Linked DNA regions of Homo sapiens. The protein of the gene in region 4 interacts with the protein of the main gene of each other region in a pairwise test. Each region holds a gene or a part of one and is shown on either strand. Other genes may lie near its edges.

Evidence for each region.
Region 1: the proteins of LASP1 (region 4) and QRICH1 interact in binary tests that used the Homo sapiens proteins (3 or more experiments, as listed by UniProt).
Region 2: the proteins of LASP1 (region 4) and PAK1 interact in binary tests that used the Homo sapiens proteins (3 or more experiments, as listed by UniProt).
Region 3: the proteins of LASP1 (region 4) and RBFOX1 interact in binary tests that used the Homo sapiens proteins (3 or more experiments, as listed by UniProt).

What each region holds. Positions count from the first base shown.
Region 1 is NC_000003.12:49,029,207-49,035,847, reverse strand, and holds the end of QRICH1 (transcriptional regulator QRICH1), read left to right. Parts: intron 1-2,619; coding exon 2,620-2,728; intron 2,729-3,074; coding exon 3,075-3,226; intron 3,227-3,574; coding exon 3,575-3,665; intron 3,666-5,203; coding exon 5,204-5,396; 3' UTR 5,397-6,141; downstream 6,142-6,641. Other genes in the region: IMPDH2 (inosine-5'-monophosphate dehydrogenase 2), read left to right, coding at 6,498-6,595. UniProt on the Homo sapiens protein: Transcriptional regulator that acts as a mediator of the integrated stress response (ISR) through transcriptional control of protein homeostasis under conditions of ER stress.
Region 2 is NC_000011.10:77,351,710-77,359,485, reverse strand, and holds part of PAK1 (serine/threonine-protein kinase PAK 1), read left to right. Parts: intron 1-468; coding exon 469-588; intron 589-3,643; coding exon 3,644-3,818; intron 3,819-5,886; coding exon 5,887-5,950; intron 5,951-7,776. UniProt on the Homo sapiens protein: Protein kinase involved in intracellular signaling pathways downstream of integrins and receptor-type kinases that plays an important role in cytoskeleton dynamics, in cell adhesion, migration, proliferation, apoptosis, mitosis, and in vesicle-mediated transport processes.
Region 3 is NC_000016.10:6,021,903-6,029,678, reverse strand, and holds part of RBFOX1 (RNA binding protein fox-1 homolog 1), read right to left. Parts: intron 1-7,776. UniProt on the Homo sapiens protein: RNA-binding protein that regulates alternative splicing events by binding to 5'-UGCAUGU-3' elements. Regulates alternative splicing of tissue-specific exons and of differentially spliced exons during erythropoiesis.
Region 4 is NC_000017.11:38,907,382-38,915,157, reverse strand, and holds part of LASP1 (LIM and SH3 domain protein 1), read right to left. Parts: intron 834-7,776; coding exon 683-833; intron 180-682; exon of another isoform or gene 116-179; coding exon 12-115; intron 1-11. UniProt on the Homo sapiens protein: Plays an important role in the regulation of dynamic actin-based, cytoskeletal activities.

The DNA.
Region 1 (6,641 bases), on a different chromosome or scaffold from region 4:
CTGCCTTGGCCTCCCAAGGTTACACCCATGAGCCACCATGCCCAGGCTATTTTAGTTTTTCTTACAGGGTCTTGCTTTGTCTCCCAGGCTGGAGTACAATGTCATGATGATAGTTCACTGCTGCCTCACCCTGTTGGGCTCGGGCTGGGACCCAGGCTCAAGCCATTGCACTCAGCTGTTTTTTTTTGTTTTTTTTTTTAAGGTTTTTGTATTGACAGGGTCTCCCTATGTTGCCCAGGCTGGTCTTGAACTCCTGGGTTCAAGCAGTCCTCCTACCTTGGCTTCCCAATGTGCTGAGATTATAGACATGAGTAACCACACCCAGCCAAGTTTATTACAAATTGTAGAGAAGAGAATAAAATTAGGGAAGTGACATCAGAGGGAGCAAGTGACAGAGCGAACCCAGAGAAGTGGAACATGCCAAAGTATGGCAATAATTGTTCCCAGGAGAAAAATTATTTTTTTAAGAAAAGGAAGGCCAGGCATGGTGGCTCCCGCCTGTAATCCCAGAACTTTGGTAGGCCGAGGTAGGAGAATTGCTTCAGCCCAAGATTTGAAGACCAGCCTGGGCAACATAGCAAGACCTCATCTCCACTAAAAATCAAAAAAAATAATCGAGTGTGATGGTGCACACCTGTGATCCCAGCTACTAGGGAGGCTGAGGTGAGAGGATTCCTTGAATCCTTCTTTGCTGAGAAGGGCTGTTTTCTGCTCATCCTGGATCTTGGGGGCTTCAGATATGTCTAAGAGCAGAAAAGCTTTTCCCATTGCCACTGGGTCACAAAATAGCCGAAAAGTAGACAAAAAATAGAGTCAGAACTGCCTTAAAGAGATGGAAATGCACTATTAGAGAGCCAGCTTTGTTTTGGCAAGAGCATAGAACACAGAAGAGGAGTGTATCGGGCAGAATGTTCTTTTTTCTGCTTCCAGGAAGTGTCACACACTGTGCTTGCTTGGAGAATCCCGAAACCCTGCAGGAGAATACTGTTGCCTGCTCCTATCTCATTATGCACCCAGTGCACAAACATGTGCATACTGACTGACTTCAGCACATGAAGGGGCTTGGTAGTCATTCAAATGTCATCTTTCTTTGGTGCAGACCTGGCTGACCAGGGCTCTTATTCAAATTATTGACCTTTGCCTGTACCTAGCTCTGGGCTCACTTATGAACCAGGGTCTTACAGTAACACCAGCCCTGTGGGGGGGATCTTGTAATAGTTCAAATACTGGCATATTGGCTAGGCGTGGTGGTTCACGCCTGTATTTCTAACTGCTCAGGAAACTGGCAGGAGGAGTCTTTGAGTCCAAGAGCTCAAGGCTGCAGTTAGCCATGATTGTGTCACTGTACTCTAGCTTGGGTGACAGAGCGAAACCCCATCTCTTTTTTTTCCCTTTTTTTTTTTTTTGAGACAGGATCTCACTCTGTCACCCAGGCTTAAGTACAGTGGTGCGATCACGGCTCACTGCAGCCTTGACCTCCCAGGCCCAAGGAATCCTCCCACCTCAGCCTCCCTGGTAGCTGGGATCACAGATGTGCACCATCACACGACTAATTTTTTTGATTTTCAGTGGAGATGAGGTCTGGCTATGTTGCCCAGGCTGGTCTTCAACTCTTGGGCTCAAACAATTCTCCCACCTCCGCCTCCCAAAGTTCTCGGATTACAGGCGTGAGCCACCATGCCTGGTCTTCCTTTTTTAAAAAAAGATAAATATTGTAGAAGAGACCCTGTATCTTAGCTAATAATAATAATAATAATAATAATAATAAAATCCCCCAAAGAGTATCAGTCTCTTTATCTAGAGAAGAAATGACAATAGCCGTTTTTTTTGTTTTTTTTGTTTTTTTGTTTTTTTGTTTTTGAGATGGGAGTCTCGCTCTGTTGCCGAGGCTGGAGTGCAGTGGTGCAATCTCGGCTCACTGCAAGCTCCACCTTCTGGGTTCACACCATTCTCCTGTCTCAGCCTCCCGATTAGCTGGGACTACAGGAGCCCGCCACCACACCCGGCTATTTTTTGTGTTTTTAGTAGAGACGGGGTTTCACCATATTGGCCAGGATGGTCTCAATCTCCTGACCTCGTGATCCACCCGCCTCGGCCTTCCAAAGTGCTGGGATTACAGGCATCAGCCACTGCGCCTGGCCGGCCTTGCTTTTTAGAGACAGTTGAGATGAGAGAAGACTTGGTAAGGGCAAACGGGCGTGCATGCCAGTTCTTTGGGTCCTGGACCACCTTTGAAAATATGCAAAGCTCTGTACACTCTCAGAGAATTATGCATATATGCAGAGTTTGGTTTATAGTTTTCTGTACTTCACTGTCTCTGAGGGCAGTCTTTTTGCCCTGTGTTAGCCTTGGATTAGAGGGTAACAACAATCATGTAAGGCTGTGGTTCTCAAGTGTGGTGTTAGAAGTGCTCATCATCAGGTTCCACCTCAGAAACAGATTGGGACCCAGCTATCTGTGTTTTAAGAAGCTTTCCAGATGATTTTTGCCACACTTTAGGGAGAGTCCCCTGATGAAATTTATACTCCTGTGTGGTCCTTATGCTTCACACATCCCATATTGTACCTTTGAGAGACCACCTGCCATCCTCTTGTTGTGACAGTACTCTATTCCTCCTAGGCTATGTCTTGCCCAGCCACGTGACTGAGGAGATGCTATGGGAGTGCAAGCAGCTTGGGGCTCACTCCCCCTCCACCTTGCTGACCACCCTCATGTTCTTTAATACCAAGTAAGTGTTCTAGAGGCTCCACTGCTGGCATCTGTCCAGTGAAGAGTGTGGAAGCTATCCAAGAGGCCTTCTGAATTCCTCTGACATATATTTGAGAAACTGGGCTACTGAAAGCCCTAACCCCACTTGGCTGCATTTTATTTGGTAACCAGTGAGGCAAACACCCTTGCCAGACCCCTACCATCCATCTTGATGTGGTTCCTGCACTGGACACTGCTTGGGTACGGGCCTGCCCAGATCTTGGGAATGTGGGCAGTGGCTCCTCTGAAGCACCAGTGGGCAGAGGATGAGTCATGGTATCCTCCCGGCACCCCTCCCTCTGCCTTGCATTTTACTTGTGATCCAGGTACTTCCTATTGAAGACAGTGGACCAGCACATGAAGCTGGCCTTCTCCAAGGTCTTGCGACAGACAAAGAAGAACCCCTCTAATCCCAAGGATAAAAGCACGAGTATCCGGTACTTGAAGGCCCTTGGAATACACCAGACTGGCCAGAAAGGTAGGGAAAGGAGGCAGGGATGGCAAAAACAGGTGCTACTTGTCCTGCCCTGTCCTGCCCTTGTGCCTGTGAGGCTAGTGATAAGTGTAAAGGTTGGGATTTGCTGGATAAAATTCTCCACTCCCTTCTCCCCAGCCAAAAATTCCAAACTTTCCTCCTAGAAGCAGAGAAGCCCCAGACAGAATAGCTGCCTCTTCCCTTAGTAGTCACTGCCCATGCCTCATACCTTCCCTCCCCCGACCCTGTATTTCCTAGTTGGGCTGGCTGAAAGCCTAAGTTTCCTGATCTGGGCCTGAGGTAAGGCAGTCTGATGCCAGGTCTGTGGTGGTGGGGATGTGTGTTTTATAGTTACAGATGACATGTATGCAGAACAGACGGAAAATCCAGAGAATCCATTGAGATGTCCCATCAAGCTCTATGATTTCTACCTCTTCAAATGGTGAGGCTTTATTGTGACTTGCTGTCCATGTGTGCGCATGTGTGTGTATGCGTGTGCATGCTCACTTGTGTGATCACTTATCATAGGGGAGAGGCATTCTCTAGTCCCAAACCAAGTAAAAACACTTCCAGAAAGCTAAATTTAGAAGCAGCCTTGCTCTGGCTTTCCAAAGGTGTGTGATGTGCCTAGCACTGATAGAAAAAGGGGTCCCGGGTCCCTACAGTCACCTTTCATGAAAAGGGTATGAAGGTACAGAGAATCTACCTTCATCACATATTGAGCATGGCCCTGCTTCCTGACCTTGACCTTTTGTCACTGCCATCATTAATCTAGGTGAGACTCCTCTCAGCTTTTTCTCCCTTTTGCCCCTTCAATGGTTTCTCATTACATAGTAATTCTTTTATGGCAGACAACTCCTTTGATGCACTCCCCCTTGCTAACCTCATGTCTGTGGAGCTCTTAGTTCCCTAGCCACACTAGCTCCTCTCCACTCAAGGACATCATATTATGCCTCTTCTCAACTTAAACACAGCTTATCAGGGAAGCATTTCCAGATTCCCCACCTCTTCCCTGTGACTGTTTCCTCGGTAGCACTTATCACTGTTTTTTATTTTGTATTTGTTTAACTTTAATTGCTACCTGTGTCCCCTCCTATCTGTAAGCTCCATGGGTAGGAAATACTTTTCCTGCCCATTTTTTTAAATATCAGCACCTAGTGCTGACCTGGCACTAGTAACCCTTGAATAAATCTTGAATGGATGGATGAATAACTGTTAGAGGATACAGCATGCCAAGTACTTAATAGAGGTACAGCACAGTTCGGGGGAGGGGGGTGAACCCAAGTTTAGGGCCCCACTGTAATGGCCATCATTATTGGGTAGAAAACACAACATGAGGCTGGGCACCGTGGCTCACGCCTGTAATCCAAGCACTTTGGGAGGCCAAGGTGGGTGGATCACCTGAGGTCAGGAGTTCGAGACCAGCCTGGCCAACATGGAAAAACCCCATCTCTACTAAAAAATACAAAAATTAGCTGGGCTTGGTGGCTCGTGCCTATGGTTCCAGCTACTCCAGAGGCTGAGGCAGGAGAATCGCTTCAACCAAGGGGGCGGAGGTTGCAGTGAGCTGAGATCACCTCACTGCACTCCAGCCTGGAGACAAGACGCCATCTCAAAAAAAAAAAAAAAAAAAGCGCAAAGACTTGGAGATAGACGCTTTGAGCAGTGAAGCTGGCTTCAAGTAGGATAAGGATAGACTCACATGAGTCCATGAGAGCCCTAGGCTGGTGCAGTCAGTGATGGATCACAGCTGGTTTGTGGGAAGGAGGGGCAGAGGGGAAGTAACCCAACATTTGGGGGATTTGCAGTAGTCCCAAAGGAGGACCAGGATGTAGTGTGTGGTGGCTGCATGGAATTCAGTAGCTGTGCCACAATAACTTGGGGCCTTACTGTTTGCAGACAGCATCTGTCTGGGAAGTTCAGGGTGGGAGGGTTGAAGTTATATTGGTGGTACCCAACTTTTATCCGCATATTCTTCAGCCCCCAGAGTGTGAAAGGCCGGAATGACACCTTTTACCTGACACCTGAGCCAGTGGTGGCCCCCAACAGCCCAATCTGGTACTCAGTCCAGCCTATCAGCAGAGAGCAGATGGGACAAATGCTGACGCGGATCCTGGTGATAAGAGAAATTCAGGAGGCCATCGCAGTGGCCAATGCAAGCACTATGCACTGAGATGCCTTGGCCATGGCACAAGAGAAACCAGCCAGGAAAAACCAGACAGACTTTCACACTAAAGAAGAGGCCTCCATTTTTTTTTTTCTTTTTTTTATTGGTGTAGTTACGAAGCCTTTCAGGCTGCTTCTGTTTAAAATATAAAAGAAAACTTTGCCCCCTTTGCATCTTCATAAACCTGCTGCGGCAGACTCCTCAGCCGATGGTGGCTCTGGGTTTCCTTGAGTGTCATATGTCCTAGAAAGTTGCTGGCTGACTCTTTTTTGTCTGGGGCCTGGGGAAAGGGCTTGGACTGTGAAAAGAAATGTGGCCCCTTTCCATCTTCAAGAGAGATGGAATTAATGATGGATGGACCCTGGAGGGAATCTCCCCAGCCGACTTCCACTGGGCTGACAGACTTTGCTGACCACAGGGGAACGATGTTCTTTTCTTTCTTCATGATCAGACATAAACTTAGCATCTTAATGGAAGAAAAATGAGGGGAACTTCAATTATGATTTATTAAAGACAATTTCTATTACACCCTCCTTTATGACAAGTGACATTTTAGATGTAAAAGTAAAAACTTTACCATGCCTTTTTTTTTTTTGTTGGCCTAACATTGAGGCCTTAAAACCTGAGGCTCCTGTGCCTGATGGAATTCTTGTAACATACACTTGTGTATCATATAAAGATACCACTCTGTTTCTCTTATGTATTCTTACTCTAGTTGTTTATTAAGAATGACAAGCACGTCTTTTCAACATGTTAGTGAACAACGTCTCTTTATTTTGGGGAGGAGCCCGGCGGGACAGTAGAAGTAAACCCTTGCCTGTTAATTGAACTGGCCGAGGTCCTGCGGGGAGTGTGGGGTGGGACGTGAAGTGGCAGCTCCTCAGTGACAAGGCCACTATGTGCTATACGCATGCGCTGTTTCTTCAGCGCCAGCTCCGCCCCCGCCGCAGCGAGGCGGGTAGGTTCCGCCCGCGCGCACTACGCCCTGACGTCAGCGTCGCGCGCAGCGCAGTGACGAAATCGGCTGGTTTATATTGGCGCGGCCCAGACGGCAGAGGTCTCTGCGGCGCGGTCCTCGGAGACACGCGGCGGTGTCCTGTGTTGGCCATGGCCGACTACCTGATTAGTGGGGGCACGTCCTACGTGCCAGACGACGGACTCACAGCACAGCAGCTCTTCAACTGCGGAGACGGCCTCACCTACAAGTGCGGGCCTATGGGGCTCACCTGGGCGAAGAGAGGGGCGGCACCC
Region 2 (7,776 bases), on a different chromosome or scaffold from region 4:
AAAAGCCTGTTTAGACTGCCATTTACCATATCAGGAGAGAGTAAGAAATTATAGTGATGAATTTTGAAAAATTAGAAACTTTTGATCTCTTCCCTACATTTCATACTTTATTTCCTGTTCAGTGTGGAGAGAAAAATTCATAGAATAAGAAGGTACTGTGAGCTTGTCTTCAGGGGTTGGGTTGGGGGAGAGGCAGGTAGAAAAGCTGTAAGCTAGCTTCCCATTCACAGCTAGGCTTTGAGTGGGAGAAGGAAGCCCCAAGGGACTGAGTGGATAGTGATGGCTAAAAGAAGAGGGAGAAACAGATTGAGCTTCTGAGACTAGCTACACAAAGGTGAGAGCTTGGAGGCTAATGTGTATTTCAGAAGGGATATCAGGATGGGGTTTCTCGTGGGAGGTTTGGTGATCCTGATAGTTAAGTTCCATGGCAGCTGGACCAGATGCATCTTGCTTTTCTTCTTTGCACAGAATGTGAAGGCTGTGTCTGAGACTCCTGCAGTGCCACCAGTTTCAGAAGATGAGGATGATGATGATGATGATGCTACCCCACCACCAGTGATTGCTCCACGCCCAGAGCACACAAAATCTGTGAGTCTTTGGGGACCTGGCCAGTTTTGTGATTTATTAGAGTAAGTGGGGAGAGGGAGGAGTTGGTGCTGATACCTAGAAGTTTAATATTCTGGTAGGCGTCCTTAGATTTTGGAGCTGGTGAAATCACTGAACTACCTTGACTAAAGGTACTTTCTGTATGATTAAAGACAAAAAATCATGTGTTTATTTATCATTGGTTTGCAGATAGTCCCAAAGTGTCCTAGGTAATTGATGTTTATACCAGTCCAGTCTCGGTTCTCCACAGATAGGACAGGAAGATATATAGGATTGATGCTACTTAGTGCAGGACTAACATAAATTATTCCAGTCTCCAGGGAAGCAACAAATTGTCTTGCTACAGATCTTTTCTTCTCTGTTAAATGTGCAGTGTTCAGCCTCTTAGAGCATTATTGATAATATTGAAAGACCCAAGAGAATATATAAATACATTAGTGCTATTAATATGCTGGGCATCAGGAGTGCATTTTGATGCCGGATGTTGGCAGTGATTTCTATTTAACTTCCTTTGAGGTTCCTGCATCTCTGAGAATAGCCATGGTCCCTCTAACCTTGCTTTGAAACATCTAGTCCCTGTGCCTTTTACTTAATTTGGCATCACTGAGCACTGACCTACCATCAGATGATACTCTACTAGTGTTTCTTTGTTTAGGTCTTTTACTAAGATGAGAGCTCCATAATGAAGGAACCATCTAGCACTTCTGTGATCATGAAAGAAAAAAAAAAGGGCTACCTCTGGAATACAGCATTCAGGGAGGTGTTCAAACAGAAATTGGTTGAATGACTATTGGAGATGCTGTGGAGGAAATTCAAAGGAATTATATGACCTATTAGGATGAGAACTTACAAACAGAATCTGTGGAATCATCTCTGTAGGTCACAAAGTTACCTCAAGGGAAAATGCGCTTCAAAATTGGAGAGTCGTTAACACTGATATGGTTTTTTTTGGTTTGTAGACATGTTCATTTAAAACATTTTTTTCCCCACTAAACCATGAACACCTCAAAAAGTAGAGGAAATCCATATGTATGTATTTCTAGTGCTTAACATAGTTCTTGGCACCTGCAGAGGTGGGTAAATATCAGAGGACAGTAAATATTGAATTAATTAATTAATTGATCTTCATAGCATTTCTTTCTAAAAAGGTATTGGTAATTCCTAATTTATAGAAGAAGCAGCTGAGATTTGGAGAGGTGAATTGATCTGCCCAGTCTCTTAGTAAACAAAAGAGCCAGGATTTGAAAGCAGGTAATTAACCCCAACTCCAGGTTGTTTTCCACCATAGCACAGTGGTATTTTTGTGTGTACAAACCTGTGCTAGGAGCCAGAGAAGGAGACTATTAAAGAAGGAAAAGGCAAGGTTTCTGTCTTCAAAGAGATATATCAGGACAGGCAAAAGAGGACAAGGCATGGAAGTACAGGTTTAGGTGCCTGGGATATAGTTTGTCTACAGGTACAAGAATAGAAAATTGAGAAATCATTATGCTAGAGTAGTAATCAGGAAGGAAGCCATTGCCTCTGATCTCAGCGTCTTGGCTTATTGCTGTTCCCACTACTGGAATGTTCTCTCCCATTTCCACCTATTAAAAGCCTGTCCAGTCAAAAGGTAGCATGGTCAAGCAGTCCAAGGTGCAGGATGTAGTTGGCTTTAGTCTCTGTGGAGCCATGGGTTTGAGTCCCACTGTTGCCAATGGCTTTGCATCATCGCAGATAAATGATCATCATAGATAAATGATCCTCTATCTTTGTAGAAACCTATCCGTCCTTCAGGATCCAGTTGCAGGATCCTGTTTGTTTATTTATTCCATCAAATATTTACCTGAATGCTTGCTTTCTTTTAGTAAGTGGTTAGATGGAGGAACTCACGGATGAATGACCCACATTCCCTGTCCTTATACTGTTTATGGACTATGCAAAAGATAATTGTGATATTTTTATGATAAAATCTGTTAAATACCTTGAAGCATCTCCTGGGGAAAGGAAGTATAATTTATGATCACTTCTGAACCTCAGTAGTATATAGCTTGCTTATTTCTTTATAACATGTATCACTTTCTGCCTTGTAGTTATGATTTTCTCACCTCCTTTATAAGAATGAGAGGTTGGGGCAGCATTTTGTACAGGGTGAGGCAACAAATAGATTCTCAGTAAATGTTTGTTATGTAAATGAATGAATAGGACATTTAATATTTTTAAAAGGTAAAATTTGAGTGCTTAATGTCTGCTGGGGATGAGTCTGATTACCTCACATATTAATCAGTTTACTCCTACAGCAACCCCAAAAGATAGTTATCATTATTATCACCATTTTATAGATGAGGAAACTGAAACACAGAGAAGTTAAGTAACCTGCCCAAAGTCATGCAGAAGGTAAGAATAATAAGAGTTGGGATTTAAGTTCAGGCAGTCAGGTTCCAGAGTCCATGTTCTAAATCATCACACTCTACTACCTCTTGATGAAGAACAAAAGTAGTTCCTTCCCTGCAAGGGTTCAGGATGTAAGGAGGGAGTAACTCAATAGAAGTTGGTGTTGTACTAGTAATGCAAAGTGCTATTTGCATTACTACAGGATATGTCTTTTAACTTGGGGAAGCATAAAATATTACAAATGAAGGGGATTCTTACCTAATAGAATTGTCTTCAACTAATTTCTTTTGTTACAGAATATTTCTTTTAGCTTGGGGAATACAGGATATTTCTTTTAGCTTGGGGAAGCATAAAATATTACAGATGAAGGGGATTCTTATCTAATAGAATTGTCTTTAACTAATTTCTTTTGATAGTTGTCTAGCCTCTATTGAATATCTTTAGTGCTGAGACTCTCACTTCTTTTGTTTACAGTGAGAGTAAGGAAGGCCATTTTACCCAGAATGGGTGGGCCTGGGCACAGAGGAGGAGTAATATAGATTTTGACATAAGAGAAAGGATGAGTTTATTGGGGTTTGCTCTGTGGATGTTCTAACCTCACATCTAGGAGAGGTTCCCCTATGCTAACAAAGGCTGGTCTTGCCAAAATTTTGCACTAATAATGCAGGTATACACACGGTCTGTGATTGAACCACTTCCTGTCACTCCAACTCGGGACGTGGCTACATCTCCCATTTCACCTACTGAAAATAACACCACTCCACCAGATGCTTTGACCCGGAATACTGAGAAGCAGAAGAAGAAGCCTAAAATGTCTGATGAGGAGATCTTGGAGAAATTACGTAAGGAATTTGTAGCTTTCTGAACCTTTCTTCGTTTTATGACTGGTCAAGCACAGAGATTTGCTGGTCGTAGGCTTGGTCCATGCAGCTGGCTGGCCATGCTTGGTACCTTAGGCACAGACTGCTTCTCCTCACCCTGCCCCTGAACCTCCCTTCCCTGTCTCACAGCCCTGGTTGGATACTATGTTAGGATGGAGATGTGGTGAGAGTGTGGATAGCTTACTTTGAGGGCAGGGCATCCCTCACCCCTAGGCATGTATTATAGCGAAGACAAATAGTTTTTCTCTAATGAATAGCCTAGAATGCCATGTTGAGAAAGACTGAGGACCTAGTGGAAAAGGGCACTGTGATCAATTATTGATGTTTTGCCATTGACCTAGGAGAAGACGCATCTGCCATCTTGGTTGTAGGAAAAGAGGGAAGGGAAGTTAACATTTTATGAACCTATAGTATGTATCAAATGACAAGCAAAATATTTTCTTGATTTTTTTTAAATTTAATTCTCTTATTAACCCTGTGAAGAAAAGCATTATGATCCTAATTTTTGCAATGAAGATATCTGAGGCTCAGGGAGGCTAAATATCCTGCCCAAAATCACGCAGCTAAAAAGTGACATGGCTGAGGTTAGAACACAGTTTTTGTTCCTGTAAGTAGAGCATACTGCCTCTTGCTGTCAAGTGGAAACTTCCATTTTACTTTCTTTAGCTGCCAGAAATGGGGGTATGTTAGGGTAGCTTATTTCTGTGTTTCAGTAAACTGCAGAAGAATTCATGTTAGAAGGAAGAACTAGGTTGATCTGTGGGCTTGGAAGAATCATTTGACAAGGGCTTTAATTTATTCACTGTATCTACTTACTTCCAAAAAGGATTTGATGTGACCGATTTGGCGACGTCTGCAAACTGGCATTGCTTTGTGGTTCTCTAGTTCTTCCTGATTAATTCCTATATGACTTTAAAACAAATTTTCACTGTTTTAAAAATTGCCCTTTTCTGGATCCCTCATAAAATGACAAAGTAAGAAAAGCCACTTACCTAGTCATCTGTTTACTCCTGTATGTAGTCTTGTTCTCTAAACCAGAGTTTTTTGTTTTGTTTTGTTTTAACAATAACACTTAGAATTATGACTTAGAATTAAGACTTGGCCTGGGAGTTAGGACACTTGAGTTGAAGCTTCTGCTCAGCCACTGACTTGTGTCTTAGGCAATTTTCTACTGTTCTCTAAACCTCATTTTTCTCATTTTTAAAATAGGGATGTTAATACTTGTCTCATTTGCAAATCAAATGAGGTAATATATGTGAAAAGTACCAATTCCTAGTAATTGGGTATTAATGGAGAGCACATTGGACCGGGAGACTAAAAATGAAACTCCTAATCTTAGCTCTGACACCAATTTGCTGTGTGACCTTGGGGGGGAAGTATCTTCTTCCCTTCTGTGGGCCTCAATTTCTCCATCTCTAAAATACAAGTTATAAAACCCAGTGGAAAACCTCTATGTCGTTGCACTTGAAATATTCTTTGTTGTAAACCTCTTCTCTACTTTATCTCTCTGGCTTTTACTTAAAGTGGAAATCAGTCCATATATCACCTTTCTGAAGTTTTTCCAGTCTTTTTTTTGTGTGTGTGTGCCTCTTTCTGTACCCCTTTGGCTTTTATCACAGCAATTATTATATTTTCATGGAACTTTATGCTTACTTATCTGTCTCCTCCATGAAATTGACCTTCTTGAGAGCAGGGACTGCCTTGACTGTGTCATATCTCTTCATTCCTAACACAACATATGGCTTGGTGCGTATTAAATGAGTAAATATTTACTGAATGGATTAATTAAAAAATGAATGACTTTTAGGAGTTTAGAAATGGAATAGCTTACTATGAATCAAAGCAGTCAAGGTGATGAAACTTTTGGTTGAGACTTATGGGGGAAAAGCTGAGGGCCTGTTTAGCATGCTTTTTGGCTATTGGAGGTAGTTCTTTAACCCTTGCCAGCTACAGGGGTTGGGGAAATGTGGAACCTTTTTTGTATCTTGATTTGGGAAAAAATGATTCATGGTCTCTGTTTCTTTCAAAGGAAGCATAGTGAGTGTGGGCGATCCTAAGAAGAAATATACACGGTTTGAGAAGATTGGACAAGGGTTAGTAGGGGCATTTTCTTTCCCTGGAGAAATGACTTTAAAGTGTGTGTGCCGGCATATATGATTTTGCTTTTTTTTTGCCTCTCATAAACCTTGTTCTTCTTTCTCCACTTTACCCCTCACCCATCTGGAGTTGTTATGTGAGACTGACTTGAGATTTGGCAGAATTATGCTTAATATGAGAGAGATGCCATTAGCTGACCATGTTGCTAAAAATACCCCTGCAGTGACAGTGAGAGAACGGTTTTTTTTCTTAGCACAAAACCAACTTCCCAAATTACAACTCTGCTTTTCCGGATGAACCCTGTTTGTCCTAGTGCTGAGATCCACCAGCACTAATATAAAATGGAAGACCCAAAACTATAAATCCTTCTACTACTGTGATAGGACCTGTTTTTCTAGGTAGATGCCAGAATTTATCCTTCTTGCATTCATCCTTCTCTGTATCTTATATGCTGCCCTCAGTGTAATGAATTCAGCAAGTCTTAACTGAGTTCCTATTGTGTGCAAGGCACTATGAATTCAGAGACAATCTCTGCTTCCAAGGACCTCAAGTCAACAGAAAAAGATAGGCAAACAATTGTATAGTCATATGTTGCCTAACAAAGGGGATATGTTCTGAGAAGTGCATCCTTAGGCAGTTTTGTCATGTGAGCGTCATAGAGTGAACACAAAACTAAATAGTATAGCCTACTACACACCTAGGCTATATGGTATAGCCTCTTGCTCCTAGGCTACAAGCCTGTACAGCATGTTACTGTACTGAATACTGTAGGCAATTATAACACAATGGTGGTTGTATATCTAAACATAGAAAAGATACGGTAAAAATACAGCATAAAAGATAAAAAAAAGGTATATTTATGTAGGGCACTTAACATGGATGGAGCTTGTAGGACTGGAAGTTGCTCTAGGTGAGTCAGTGAGTGGTGAGTGAATGTCGAGGCCTAGGACATTACTGTGTACGCTACTGTAGACTTTATAAACCCTGTACACTTAGACTGTACATTTATTAAAAAACAAAGTAATTGTGCTATGACGTTACAACTGCTACAGTGTTACTGGGTGATAGGAATTTTTCAGCTCCATCATAATCTTATGGGACCACCATCATATGCGGTCCATCGTTGACTGAAACGTCGTTATGTGACACATGACTGTCTTGTGTTTTTAAAGTGTTTGGCTGTTATTTTGAGTGAAAGAAGCTAGATATGAAAAAGCAGATACTGTCTCATTTGATTTATATGAAATTCAAGAACAGGCAAAAGTAATATATGATAATAGAAGTCAGAATAGTGGTTATTTCTGGGAGGAGGATGTAGAGTGGGAATAGGCATGAAGGAATCTTCGGGGGTAATGACTGTAGTGTCTTTTGAAAGTGGCCATTATTTTGAGTGAAAAAAGCCAGATATAAAAGAGCAGATACTATGTCATTCTATTTATATGAAATTCAAGAACAAGCAAAACTAATGTATGATAATAGAAGTCAGAACAGTGTAGTTATTTCTGGGAGGAGGATGTTGAGTAGGAATAGTCATGAGGGAATCTTTGGGGGTGATCTTGGTAGTGAACACATGGGTGTGTACATATATAAAAATCAAGTTGTACACTTAAGATTTGTGCAAATTAAGTTATACCTCTCTATAAAAAAAAAATGAGATTTCTAAAGACCCACCAAAAGAGATAAAATTAAAAAGAAACTGAAAAAGAAAAATGTCTGGCTCTCAGTGTTAGTGGAATGAAAGCATTGTTGCTAATGATGTCATTGAAATTTTCTTTTTTTTTTTAAATTATACACCCAAGAATTTCTGAAAATAAAAGATTGC
Region 3 (7,776 bases), on a different chromosome or scaffold from region 4:
GCCTCAGCCTTCCGAGTAGCTGGGACTACAGGCACCCGCCACCACGCCCGGCTAATTTTTTGTATTTTTAGTAGAGACGGGGTTTCACCATGTTAGCCAGGATGGTCTCGATCTCCTGACCTCGTGATCCACCCGCCTCAGCCTCCCAAAGTGCTGGGATTACAGGCGTGAGCCACCACGCCCGGCCATGTTTTTCTTTCAAATGCTAGATTCAACTGTAAAAATTCTCAAACTTTAAATAGTCTATCCTCTTTCAGTGTGCATATATAATGTCAAGTTTTTAAAATTTGTGGCTAATCGGCTTTCTTATACTATTTCTCATTATAAACTGACACCAGCGAAGCACAATTCAGTAGAAATAAGTTTATAGAATGGGGTGGATGGTTCCTTGTTCTTGTTATGAACTTTTGAAGATTATTTTAGGTTTACACAGACAAAACCAATAAAGTTTCCTGAGCAAAATGAATGAAATTCACTAGGAAACAAAATATCTTTCCACAAATCACAGCACACTAACTAGGGAACCTTTTGTATCAAAGAGTCATGGGGTGAGAGGCTATTGTCTGAATACCACAAGGTAAAAAAAAATAAGAAGTGACTAGCTCGGAAGTCTGTGTGATTGCTGCTTGACTTAACTCACTCCCAGGTAGCCATCCTTGGAGACAGAATCATTTGCCTTTTAATAGACAAGTAAATGGAGGCTCAGAGAGGTGCAGTAACTGGCCCAAGCTCACACAGCCAGGAAGTGGCAGAATCTGGATCCACAAGTTAAGTGTACCTGGCTGCCATGACTTTGTCCTTTCGCACCTTGGCGCTCAGGGAATTCAGTCTTCTCAAAGCTTTTCTGACTCCAACATAGCCCCATTCAGTGCCTTATCACCTTGAAGGCAAGACACTTCTTTAACCAGCATCCTACCTGCTGTAATTCAGACTGAACAATCTCTCCAAATCAGAAATGAGAAATCTTTCTACAAAGAGCTTCATGTTCTTTTTTTTTACAGATAGGGTCTTGCTCTGTTGCCAAGGATGGAGTGCAGTGGCACAATTACAGCTCATAGCAGCCTTAAACTCCCAGAGCCAAGCAATCCTGTCCCAGCCTCCTGAGTAGCTAGGACTACAGGCATGAGCTACCACACCCAGCTAATTTTTTTTTTTTTTTTTTTTTTTTTAACAGAGACAGGGTCTCATTATGTTGCCTAGGCTGGTCTCCAACTCCTGGCTCAAGCAATCTTCCTGCCTCAGCCTCCCAAAGTGTTGGGATTGCAGGCAGGAGCCACCATGCCCGGTCATCATGTTCTTAAAGAGAGGTATCAACCATGCCCTTTATTCTCCCTCAAGGAAACTACTGCACTTTCTCTAACCTGTGAAAAGGACTATTTTCCCTCCACTGGGGAATTTCTGCATGCACACACTCCCTCCCTCCTCTTATCAGCCTTTGCAATCAACAGCAACCTGAACTGGACTCAGCTTTCTAAGGATACTGAAGAAATAGGTATGACATTTACAACGTGGTAAAAGTGAGCCATGCCATGGACATCTTCAGGAGACTCACTTGAGAACACAGGCAGTGACCCAGAATCAAGACAGGGGGCTGGTCCCAAGGGAAACAGACACCAAGCCAATACCCCTGGGATCTAGCCAGGGCTACTGTTGCTGAATCAGCCCTCTCAATCCCCTGCTCCGTCACTTTTCATAACGAGTCTAATAAATTAGTGTTTCTCTCTGCCAATCAATCAGAGCCCATGCATATGGCTGCTGTCAGCATCCTCTGCAGGCGGAACTCCACACAGGGCCTCAAGTCTGTCAACGATCTCAACCGTACATTTGCAGCTACGCTGGGTTCTTCCCCCTTCACTCTCAATTTGTCACCTCAGTTACAGTCAAGAGGAAAATATACGAAGCACATTCTGGGACCAATTTGCTGCCCAAAGGGATTGTGAAATTCTAGCAACAAAAACAAGGTTAATAATGATATCATTATTATCAATGGATAATAGTAATCGTCATGATTATCATAGTCAGCCCTATGACTCCTACTTGCACTAAACACACACTAGGTGCCAGGCACTTTGCTAAAATAATTTACCAGGCTGATTAATCCTCAGACGGACTGTACAATGTAGTGATAATCTCCATTTGTAGGGATGGACTGAGGTTCAGAGAAATTGAAGAAAGTGAAAGGTTATGGACTTAGAAAGTGATGGAGCTGGGATCTCAAGCCAGACACACTGATTCTGGAATCTCAGTGAAATACCTGCACTGCCTCCTTCCTAGTACCTTATCATGGTGCCTCTGCTATTCCCTGCATCCCAAGCATGCCCTCTCCACACACAGCAGGGGAAGAGAACTGCTTGAGTCTGCAATCTCGGTTTGCCATTTAGTCACTGGGCCTCAGTTCCTTCATCTGTCAAGTGGTATAATAAAGGGTTTGCCATGAAGAGTTAATGAAATGACACACAGGAAGCCCTAGCACAGAAGGAGCTTCCAGTGAGTGTCATAGCTATTAGGGTCCCAACCATGGTACAAAGAAGACAATTTTGAAAACCTCAAGTCCTCACCCTCATCTCTGACACTCTATATTCTAAAATTCACAGAAAAGAGACATCAACATCTTGGGGAAATGCAGAACTAGCAATGAACAAGGTGATTGCACAAGTTCATCCATTATGCTGGCAAAGATCTAATTTTGTTCTCAGAAGAAATGAAGAGGGAAGCTGATTCAGATGACGGTGATTAGATGGAGTGAGCAGTGGTTTGCACACCACATTTTGAGTGGCTATCAGAGCAGCTCCAGCTGTGACTGCATGATGCCCAAGGACTGCCTGTAACCAGGCAGGTGGTCCAACCGCTCCCTCAAAATCATACTCAGAGCGTGAGCCTAGATAAAGAGGCCAGAGATGCCCTGGGCAACCCAGGGCCTTGAGACTCCAAGGAGACAAACAACAAAACAAGAGCCAGATTGCACCAGTGCAGAAATCTAGCGAGGCTCTTACACAACGATAAAGTAATACTGCAATAAATAGAAACAAGTGCCTTGTTTTCCTTTTGTGGCTCTAATGGGCTCAGCATCACTTCTCAGAGCAACTCAAGCTATGCAGCAAGAGCTCCCTAACCACTGCACACATTGCCTCCCACCCTCCCTTGTATCTTGCAAAGGCAGCAAAAGAGGCCATGTGCACAGTGATGAGCATCAGGGGCTGTGGACTCAGACTGTCAGGTTCAAAATCTTGGAAGTGCCTCTTACCTGCTGTTGTGTCCTTGGACAAATTGCTTAACGCCTGCCTACACCCCACTCTCTATCTGCAAAATGGGGATCTGAAAAGCACTAACCTCAAAGTGTGTGAGAAGCATCAAATGGAATAATTCATTATTTCCATATGGGGCTTCTGCTGTGTGCCTTGCACCACGCTAGATGCTAAGGAGACAGTGATGTCCAAACAGGTGTATGCATGGTCCACCTGCAGTTGACCATGGAGTGGAGTAAGAGAAAAAGGATAAAACAGAGTCACTCAATAAAATATAAGATGCCCCTGGGATGGCTGTAAAAAACGAGAATCGACACAGGCAAACAGGGACAGTTTCTCTAAGCCTGGGGCTTTTGAGTTGTAACCTGAAGGATGAGCAGGAATCGAATAAGGTGAACTGCTGGGTGGGTGGGGGAGGCGATCACATGCCTGAAACACATAGCACAACACACAGCCATGAAGGTACAGTGCTTGGCTCAGCTTGTGCTACATAGGAAGAGTTCAATCCATGTACACTTATTCTGATGTTCATGTCACATATAATAGGCAATAATGCAGTTCCAGTATTGTGGATAAAGAGACAGTCAATGTGGGAGGAAAACTGAATTGTCCAGGTGTCCAAACCCTCCAACAAATTGCACCTCAACCTTCTAAGGGCAGGGTAGCCTCTGAAGATGGACAACGTCGGCTGCACTCAGAGCTCTCCATAAGCAACCCACTTTGCACTGTCAATATCTGTTATTACCCTGGCCCACACCTACCAATGGGAGAATCTGTGGCCATACTCTGAAAGGGAACCTACCCGGACAGACGATCAATAAAGGGCATCTGAGTGCAACTGTTCTCAGGGTACTCCCAGGAGACTTGTCAGTCAAGCCATCAAAAGGATGTGGTGGTGGGAGGGTGCGGCTGCTCATGCAGGCACACAAGAACACATGATGTTGCCTCTTTGAAGGGAGGCCCCAGAGAAAGAAAATCTAAGTAGGCTAATGTATACAGATGTATCCTCCCAGGGTCTTCCACCCTCACACAAAGAACATTACTGGAAAATGAGGTTCTTTTTCCCTATAAAGTAATCCCTCTTCTTGAATGAAAGATTTTAGTGTAAGCCCTACGAAGTAGGTGGTGGTGGGGAATCGAGTTTAATTTCTCAGACGTTGCAAGGCTTACCTTTTCAGATGTCACTACGTCCACAGACCAAATCTGGTCATAGAAATGAATTGAAACTTTGAAAAAATAGAGCCGGCCGGCCAGGAAGGCATGCTTGTTTATTCACTCATCTCAAAAACACCTAACAATTTTCCCATAATGTTTAAGACATAAATATATCCTGGTATCTCTCTGCATAAAATCCCCCAATGGTTTCCCATTAGAATAACAGCCAGGGTCCCTTCCCAGGCCACAAGGGCCTATAGGACCAACCTTCAACTGTATGATTTTGTCACTATTCCAGCCTCTGGATCGTTGTGCTTGTTGGTCCCCTTCTCTGAAACGCCCTCCATGCAGACAACTATCCTAGAACGGAAGTCTTTTAGGACAAGGTATCTGCATGTATTGATCACTCTGCACTTGAAGTGCTTTCAATAGTGCTTGGCACACAGTGGGTGCCTGATGAACACTCAGGAATTCATAGAAAGTAGGGGTGAATGAGGCTGGGCGTGGTGGCTCACGCCTGTAATCCTAGCACTTTGAGAGGCCGAGGAGGCGGGTGGATCACTTGAGGTCAGGCGTTTAAGACCAGTCATGGGGAAACTCCATCCCTACTAAAAATACAAACACTAGCCAGGCGTGGCAGAGCACACCTGTAATCCCAGCTACTCAGGAGGCTGAAGCATAATAATCACTTGTACCCAGGAGGTGGAGGTGGCAGTGAGATGAGATCACACCACTGTACTACAGCCTGGGATACAACGTGAGGCTCTGTTTCAAAAAAAAGAAAGCGGAGATGAGTAGAATACTCATTGGATAAATGTATGGATCCATACAGATCAGCTACTTCTTTTCATGTACTTCTCAGGTCAAATCTCTCCTCTCTGGAATGTCCCCCCAAGTCACTATCACACTATAATTTTTGGAACCCTTTTCATTATCCTTATGAAAATATATTTCAACGTCTTGCTTATGACGCGGCTTCCCCCACGACAATATAAGCTACAAGAAAGGAAAGTTCTCGTCTGCCTTATTCACCAAGCACAGGGTCTAACATGTGGTACATTCCAAATAAATATTTCTTGCATTAGCCACTCCTTCCCCTAAGACAACACACTCTTCTGTAGCAGCAGGCCACAGTCACCCATGTCTCTTTGACTAGCGAACAATGACAAACCAGTGGTAATGAGTGACAGTGCTCACAATGACTACAGATTCAAAAAATGAGGACAGTTGCCTGTGTATATAACTCCACGCGTCATTTTTCATAAAAACTCCTAGCCCTACGACCGAGTCTAACTGTGTTCACAGTTGACATCATCTGAAAGTGCTAGATCCCCTTGTTTTGAAGCTCCATCACTGATTGATTCTTTAATTAAAGTTTTAATATTTATACCTGTGCCTCGAGGCAGTATTTTAAATAATGGAGGTAGACATTGGGAAGAGCCTCGTGGCTTCTTTAAAAACGTCGCCTCGGTGTTTGAGGTCTCCGGCACGACACTGTGGGTAAATGTGAAAGCGACAGATTAAAGGATGATTTTAGGAAAGTCAGCCAGTATTAATTTGTGGATGATGCTTACTGTGTAACTCCCATGCTGGGTGGCAAAGGCAGGACGAGCTGCCCTCTGTCCTTCAGAGCAAACGTGCTAGGATTTCAATAGTCTCCTTACACGCCACTGGGAAATCGCTGCGTCTCCAAAGTATTTTCTGTGTCAAATACGATTTCCCTCTTGGAATGTGTTCATTACTCCACACATCAGCTTAAAGGATGCAAACGAAATGGTCTAATTTTTGGAAAGGTGAAATGTCAGATTCCTATACAGGGCAGACCCAATTTTCTGGATACAAAAAATATGTACTATCAGAAAGGACTTTGATAAAATATAATAGCTTGGGATGGTTCGAGCTAAAAGGACTAAGCTTAATTTTTTTCTAAAATCATCAGAGACATGAGGATGTCTAGAAGACCTGTGCTCAAACCTTACAGGAGCAGGTTCTATATATATATATATATATAGCTTCAATTATAATGAGAAGAAAAATAGGGCAGAGTGGGTCAATTCCAGGAGGAGAAACCCGCTCAGACCCATGTTTCAGCTTCATTTCTGAGTGGAAAACTCTGTAGCTTCAGGGTGATGTAAAAAACTGTACGTTCTACGGACAGCAAGATTTATTACAACATTACTGAAACTTTATACCTGTTGATTAGATCAGCAAATCCTCATTTCCCTGGCCCCTGAGACCCTGGCCACAACCTTCTACTCTCTGCTTCTATGAGTTTGACGATTTTAGATCCCCGAATCCCTCATGCAGTAAAGGTAAATAACTCCTTGACATCTCCTATACAATACTATCCTTAAAACAGTCATGTATGATATACTTAGAAATCTTTTCACAGGGTACAGCCCATGTTGTGTTCTTGCCACAACAAAACTAAAATTCTTTCTAAAAACTGGATCAAGGTATTTGTGCATTCAGTTCATTTATGGGCAAATGTGTGCCACAGATGTTTATATGTTTATACAATTAAATACTATCACAAATTGTTTAGATACTATCACAAATTGTTTTTTGTTTGTTTGTTTGTTTTGTTTTGTTTTTGAGGCAGGGTCTCATTCTGGTCACCCAGGCTGGAGTGCAGTGGCGTGATATCGGCTCACTGCAGCCTCAACCTTCTCAGGCTCAGGTGATTCTCCCACTTCAGCCTCCAGGGTAGCTGGGATTACATGTGTGCACCACCACACCCATCTAATTGTTTGTATTTTTAGTACAGACAGGGTTTTGCTAAGTTGTCCAGGCTGGTCTTGAACTCCTGGACTCAAGCAATACGCCCACCTCAGCCTCCCAGAGTGATGGGATTACAGGCATGAGCCACTGCACCTGGCCACAAAATTTTATATCTAAACATACTAATTGCAATGTGTGAATCCCAGGAGGAATGATAAAGCCACTTCTAATATTCTTCGATTCTTGTGTTTTCAAAATATTCTATGTATTAAATAAATGATGTTCTAATTAAAAAAAAAAAAACAGATTTGCTAAGGTAATACTTTCATCCCAGGGGGCCAAGGAGATCAAGTCCTTTCAGTGGGTCAGAAGAAATGTACAACTGCTGCAAAAACTTAATTTCAGGTGCTTGTCAAGACAGCAAGTCAAATGCCACCAACCTATATCTTGGCCAGTGGGTGGGCAGCTTGTCCGTGATCCTCCTTGGAACATGCAGAGAGCAGAATGGGAGAGCTTGAGGCTTCTGTTCCTTACTTAAAAGAAAACGTGTGTGTATAAGGCAAGCCACCTGCCTTTCCTGTACCACTCGGTGCTACAAGGCTCAAAAATTAGAGGAATCTACTTGAAAGAATAAAGAAACAAAACTCATAGAATT
Region 4 (7,776 bases):
GGGTTACTCACCCCGCCACCACCTGGGGCGCTGCGCTGTATGGAGACTGGGGCTGCAGGCTCCTTGTAGCCACCATAGGACTGGGCCACCGGCTGCTGCTGGGGCTGCTGGTAAACTGGAAGATGGGAGGAGACAGGGCTTGGAAACTGTCCTGCCAAACCCAGCCCCTCCCAGAGCTCCCGAGAAGTCCATACCATGCACTTCCACCCCGCCCCCAACCTGGCTCAAGCCCCACAGCTCAAAGGCTGATGTCCACGTGTGCACATTTGCCTGTGTGTTGTATCCCACGCAGGGGCTCTGAGCCCCATGACCTGGGGGCCTCTCCTTTCAATCCTCTTGGCCCAGTACAGGCCTGACCCTGGTGCTCACGTCCTCATTCTGGATGAGAATGGAACTTGGGGTCTTGGGAAGCAGTCTTTTCCTCGCCTGCATGCGTGCGTGCATGTGTGTGTGTGTGTGTGTGTGTGTGTGTGTGTGTGTCTGTCTCTCGCCGACTTCCTCCCCACCCCAGCTGGCCCGGCCTCAGGTCCTCTGGTCCCCTCTTGCACACAAGAGGCATAATCGCCTGTTGATTAAGAGCAAGGCTCCGGAAGGTGTATCTGTCTGTCTGTCTTCTCCTGGCTTCCTCCCCACCCCACTGGCCTCGCCTCAGGTCATCTGCACCAACAGGACCTGCACTCACCCGGGGCACTGGTCGGGATGTGGTGAGGCTGCTGCTGCTCCAGGGGCCGCCGGTAGCTGCTGCCGTCCTGTGAATCCCGACGCTCTGGCTCCATGCCCTCGCCCCCGCTAGGGCCCATGCGGCTCTTCTCAAACTCCTCATGGTATTTTATCTGCAAGGTCAGAAGGCACTAGGTGAAGGGTCCCACTGCAAACCACCCAGTTCCTTCCCGTGACCCTCAAGATCCCAGGATGGGAGAGACTACCCAAGAGCTTTGGGTACAGAAAGCCAGGTCTCGCTCTGGAAGCACCAGCTGTGTGTCCTTGGACAAGCTACCTAATCTTGCCAAGCCTCAGTTTTCACCTCTGCAAAATGAGACACCAGTCTCCCTCAGACACTGTTGGAGAATGCAATGAAATGACCGATGTAAAAGGACCATGAGAACTGAAGAATCAGACCAAAGTGAGTGGTCCCTTTTCTTTTTTTTTTTTTTTCGAGACGGAGTTTGGCTCTGTCGCCCAGGCTGGAGTGCAATGGTACGATCTCAGCTCACCGCAACCTCCACCTCCAGGGTTCAAGTGATTCTCCTGCCTCAGCCTCCTGGGCGGCTGGGATTACAGGCGCCTGCCACTACGCCCAGCTAATTTTTTGTATTTTAATAGAGACAGGGTTTCATCATGTTGACCAGGCTGGTCTCAAACTCCTGACCTCAGGTGATCCACCCGCCTCGGCCTCCCAAAGTGCTGGGATTACAGGCGTGAGCCACCGTGACCGGCCAAGTGGTCACTTTTATATGCCTGCGGCAGGGGCGGGGCTGCTCTGTTTCCGCCTGGGTCCACAGTAACCACAGCAGCAGCCCGTTTCCTGAGCTCTTACTGCGCCAGGGCCGTGCTAGGTGTTTTATGTCACAGGCTCATGTGAGCTCGTCAGCGCCCCTGAGGGGTAGATTGCAGACCCCATGTAACAGGCAAGAAGGAAGCGAAGGGATTGATAAGTGAAGTGAGTGGCCCAAGATCACAGATTCCAGAGCCTTGCTCTTCATCAACAGGCGATTCCACCTCTTGTGTGCAAGATGTCGTGGGTACTACAGCCTAGGATGCTCCGCTGAGAATCCCAGCCTTTAGGGATAAAAACTGCCAGACCCTCCCTGAGGGCGGGACATTGTCTTGGATGGGCTCCTTCTCGGGTCAGGTTCCAAAAATGAGCAGAGAGGCCCAAAGAAGTCATATCCCTCAGGACCACCCCACTAGGCGGGCATGTGAGGCTCCAAGCCTTCAAGTCAGTCTCTTGCCCCCACAGTGCTCTACTGGCTACAGAGTCCCCCACCTTGACCACCACCACCCAGGAGTCTTGAGTTGGGCCTCATGTTGTTTGAGGGCTGTGACTGTGCCTGCCTGGGGCTGGCTGCATTAGCCATCAAGGTCAGGAGGGCAGGGGAGGCAGGTGCCCACCAAGCCAAGCTGGGGAGGGGAGGGAAGCTGCACTCTGCCCAGACCCCTTGGGTGCTATGGTGGAGGACTTGGCCAGTTTGGGGGAACCAGAGCCCCTGCTACCTCCATCAGAGACCTAAGCAGGGTCAGCCAGAGGAAGCCCCACCTCCACTACCAGAAAGAAACCTCAGGGTCAACTGGCCCATTTGTGTCCAGAGCCTCGGCGCCAGCTCAGTCCTCTTAGCCAACTGAGTTAGAGAGAAATGGTCGTTCATTCACCTTGTCTTCTTCAGGCTGAGTCCCATGGTGGGACGAGAACACCGGCCTCGGTGTTCCCTGCTAGATCCAGATCCTGATTGGCCCCAGGCTTCCTCCACCTCCCATCCCCCATGGCACCTTCTCCAGACACAAGCCCTTTCCTCCTCTCAGGTCTGAAAACTGTCCAGATGGCCTTCTGGGGCTGTGCCAGACTCCCAAAGACAGGCCTGCCAAGGTCTCCTGGATCTCAGCCCAAGAGCCAGACCCTGGAGAATCACGGGTGACTCCTTGTGCTTGCGGCACCCTGACCCTGTGGCAACCAGATCCTGCGGCACCCTGGCCCAGCGGCACCCTGGCCCTACCCTGACCCTGTGGCACCCTGGCCCTACTCTGACCCTATGGCACCCTGGCCCTACCCTGACCCTGTGGCACCCTGGCCCTGTGGCAATCTGACCCTGCGGCACCCTTGCTCCCTCTCTCCTTCCTCCAGCCGCTCCATGCGGCGTAAGGCCCACACTTTCACATCTCATGTGCCTGGATCCAGCTGCTCTAGCCCCACCTGGGCCAGCCCAGAACCGGCCCCTGGGCCCATATGGGACAGGGGAAAAGTCAAGGTCCCTATTCCCAGGCACGCATATATCAGGTGGGTTTTGAGGCCTGATATATGTAGTTCTTGAGGCAGCAAGAACTACACCACAAGAAAGGCGGGTGGTGAGGCCGAGCACGGTGGATCACGCCTGTAATCCCAGAACTTTGGGAGGCCAAGGTGGGTGGGTCACTTGAGGTCAGGAGTTCGAGACCAGCCTGGCCAACTTGGTGAAACCCTGTCTCTACTAAAACTACAAAAATTAGCTGGGTGTGGTGACGGGCGCCTATAATCCCAGCTACGCGGGAGGCTGAGGCAAAAGGATAGCTTGAACCTGGGAGGCAGAGGTTGCGGTGAGCCAAGATCATGCCACTATACTCCAGCCTGGGTGACAGAGTGAGACTCCGTGACTCTGTCTCAAAATGAAAAAAAAAAGACAAGTCATAAAGCCTCACATACATATCTCATTGCCTCAAATGGGAAAAGACCTCCAGGTGAGCCTATTTATGGGGGAGGGAGCCAGCCCTGGCCAGACTGACCACGCCCAACCCCACTAGGAAGGGCACCAGGGCACTCCCAGACACGGGGCCCATGCCCTGTTCTCAGATCCCTAAGACAAGGCCAGAAGTGACTCTCCCAGCCCACTCCCTCAGCAGCACCCTGTCCCCTGGCTGGGGTGGTGGGGGAAGACAAGGGAAGGAGATACCAGCCAGCAGCCCTAGTTGATACACTTCATGCATATCAGCTCGCCGAATCCTCCCCACAAGTCTCTGAGGTAGTCAATGTCATATCCCGATATCCAGAGAGGCTAAGGGACCTGCCCAAGGTCATCTGGACACATGGTGGTAGGGAGGGAAGGGATTAAGGTCAACCTGGAGGCAGCCCACCCTCGCCACTCAAGGGCAGTCCAGGCTTCTCTCATCCTTCAAGGTCCATCTCGGCACCTCATCCTCGGGACGCTGGCCCTGGCTCCAGGCTGAACCCAGGGCTTCCATAGCACCTGGGACTGGGCTGTGCTGTTGGCGGGTGGTGTCCCCCACCCCCACTGGATGGAAGCTCCTGGAAGGTAGTGAAGGAGCCAGTTATTCTGATGCAGGGGTCTCCCACAGCACTGCACACCCCAGGCCTCAGGACTGGCTGAAGAGAACAGACCAGGATCCTGGAGACCCTTGAGCTTTGCTTCTTAACATGTGGTCTCCTGGCCGGGCGCGGTGACTCACGCCTGTAATCCCAGCACTTTGGGAGGCTGAGGCTGGTGGATCACCTGAGGTCAGGAGTTTGAGACCAGCCTGGCCAACATGGTGAAATGCCGTCTCTACTGAAAATACAAAAATTAGCTGGGCATGATGGCAGGCACCTGTGATCCCAGCTACTCGGAAGGCTGAGGCACGAGAATTGCTTGAACCTTGGAGGCGGAGGTCGCAGTGAGCCAAGATCACGCCATTGCACTGCATCCTGGGCAACAGACTGAGACTCTGTTTAAAAAAAAGTGGACTCCAGACTACCTGTGTCTGACTCAACTGGGCTCCTTGTTAGAATGCGGGTTCTGGGGCCTTCCAGAAAATCTACAAAATCAGGGCTGGGGTTCTGGAATATGCATTTTGGAAAAAAGCTCTCCAGGTAAGTCTGAAGCAGGCTTCAAGTCTGAGAACGGGTGGTCTAGAGCAGAAGCTGGGAATCTATGGTCCATGGACCAAATCCAGCCCACAGCCGGCTGCTAAGAACGGGTTCCACATTCTTTAATGCTTGGCAGGGGGCGGTGGAGGGGGGGAAGAAGAACCAAAAGAGGAATAATATTTCATGACACATGAAATTTCTCTGAAATTCAAATTTCAGCCTCCAGAAATAAAGTTTTATTGGAACACAGCCACACCCACTCAATTACCTCTTATCTGTGGCTGCTTTCATGGCAGAACTGCAGAACTGAGCTGCTGCCACAGAGGCCATATGGCCACAAAGCCTGAGATACCTCCTACCTGGCCCTTTACAGAAAAAACTTAGTGACCCTTGTTTGCCAAAATATTCTGACGGCATACTCCTATTGGTTAAATGTATTTTAGCACAATCTTCCTGAATTATGTGTATTTTATAAGTTACATGGAAGTTATCACTTGACAAATATAGAATGTATATTGTAAAACTTGCACCAAAGAATGAATTGTGAAAGTATGAGATGGCCAGGTGCGGTGGCTCACACCTTTAATCCCAGCACTTTGGGAGGTCGAGGTTGGCAGATTGCTTGAAGTCAGGAGTTCAAGACTAGCCTGGCCAACACAGTGAAACCCTGTCTCTACTGAAAATACAAAACTTAATCAGGCATGGTGGTGGGCACCTGTAATCCCAGCTACTTGGGAAGCCGAGTCATGAGAATCACTTGAACCCAGGAGACGGAGATTGCAGTGAGCTGAGATCGAGCCACTGTACTCCAGCCTGGGAGACAGAGTGAGTCCATCTCAAAACAAATGAATGAATGAATGAATGAATGAATGAATGAGATGAAAAAGAACCAGAACCAGGAGTTAGAGTTTTCTTCCTGTAGGAACATGCTGCCTGTCCCACACCTTGATGACCCCTAGTGGGCTCTATCCTCTTCACTTTTCTTTCTTTTTTTTTTTTGAGATGGAGTCTCGCTCTGTCGCCCAGGCTGGAGTGCAGTGACACAGTCTCGGCTTACTGCACCCTCTGCCTCCCGGGTTCAAGTGATGCTCCTGCCTCAGCCTCCTGAGTAGCTGGGATTATAGGCAACTGCCACCACGCCCGGCTAATTTTTGTATTTTTAGTAGAGACAGGCTTTTACCATGTTGGCCAGGCTGGTCTTGAACTTCTTGACCTTGTGATCTGCCCACCTCGGCCTCCCAAAGTGCTGGGATTACAGCCGTGAGCCACCGTGCCCAGCCTCCTCTTCACTTTCCAGAGAGGAAACTGGTGGGGACGGGTACAACCATAGAAAGGTGTGAGGGTTCAGGGTTTGAGTGCTCCATGAGGATGGGGGAGGAAGCGGGACATAGAGTGAAGAGAGTGACAGCTCTCCCCCACCCTCAGGGGAAACTCAGAAAGCAGGACACCAGGACAAGGAGAGAAACTGGTCCTTCCCAGACGGGCTCAGGCCTGCAGGAATTTCCTCCAGGCCCTGGCAGGCACCTAGCTGGAAGCCAACTTCACTTCCTGTTCCCTAGAATGCTGGCCTGCCTTTTCCTGATCCGGGAAAATGGGGTGGGAGTAGTGGGGTGGGAAGAGGAGGAGAGGCAAAACCTGCTGTTTCCTGGAACGCCCCTGCCCCATCAGGGCTGTCCCAGCCTGGGCAGTCCCCTTTGGGCATCCCCTCCGCACAACGTCTCTGCTGCCTCCTCTCCCCCTTGGCACTGGCTGTGCACAAAAGGCAAGAGCAAGCACGTGGCCAGGCAGGGCTTACACGTTAACAGCTGGAAACACCTGCATGGTTGCTGCTCCTGCTGGCTGAACAGCCAATAGTTCCTGCAGCCCGGGCTGGGGGCACAGGGAGGGCAGTGGTAAGGGCCTGGACAGAGTCTGGGGGGAGTCCAGTCTGGACGCAGAGGGCAGTTTACTTAGGGGTTTGGGTCAGGATCAGTCCCTCCTTTCCCGGCCCCCTCCCTTCAGGCCAGAGCAAGGACCGGCACCCACGTGGCAGCACAGGCTAAGCCTGTTCCTGAGGTGAGGCAGCCAACCCTGGCCAGGCTGAAAATCCAACCGACCCCAGCATCCGCTGGGAGGGGCACTCCAGGTGATGTTCTCACAGACCCAGCGCAGAAGGTGAGTCTCCCGAGCCCCACTCTCTTAGTGATCCCTGTCCACTGGTGTTGGTGGCGGGGAGGGCACAAGGGAAGGGGACACCCCTCCTGAGGCCTCCAGGCTCACGAGGCACCTGCCCTTCCAACTTTTGTTCTGAGGTGGGAAAGGTCAGCTTCCCTTGTTTCCTTTCTGCTAAGGAAAAGAGCCTGCCCCTGAGAACCTGTGACCAGGGAGGGAAGTGCAGACACGGAATGGACAGGGGCCTGCCCTGGGCCCCGAAGGTGCCAGCAGGGGGCCTGCAGGGACAGGTGTCCTTGATGTTGGGGGCCCAGATGAATGTGTGACAGCTTCCCTGGACATGACGCTATCTGCATTAGCGATGGGGTGACAGGGAGCCTTTTCCTCTGGGAGGAGAGCAGGTCTGGACCCCACAGGCTCAGTCCCTTATGATGGGCTGCACTGTCACCAGACCAATGCCTCATCCTTAGGGGAGCCGTATGCTTACCTACATGACCTTGGGAGTCACTTTCCCCTCTGGGTCTCAGTTTCCTCATCTGTAAATAAGGCCATGGTACCATCTGCTCCCAGGCGGTCCTGCAAACCCTGACCAGCTCTAGGAACCTGAGCAAACTCTAAGCTGAAAGCAAGTATGGACACATGGGTATTCCCATAAAGGGCTGGGGAAACTGATCTTGCTTCTTAAAAAGTCATTACACATGGATAAGTGTATCTAAAGTTACGGCTGGCTGACCCGACGGCTGGAGGAGTAGCTGCCTGAACCCAGGACACCCTTCCTGGGTGGCTCTATCAATGTTAACAACCTCTGCAGCTGTACAGCTCTTCACACAGCTTGACCAAGCTCTTCATACCCTGACAATCATTGCCCTAAAAAATGGGCCGGACACGCACACTTTCATTCCCATCTTCCAGAAGAGGAACATGAGGCTCAGAAATTAAATGACTTCCCGAGGCAGAGCTTTCATTGCTCAGTAACAGCCAAGGCTGGTGACACAAGGACAAAATCACAGCTAGACAGGCCCTTTCCTGAGAACAGGTGTGGAGCAGGGTGACCACACGCCCAAGTCCCAGTT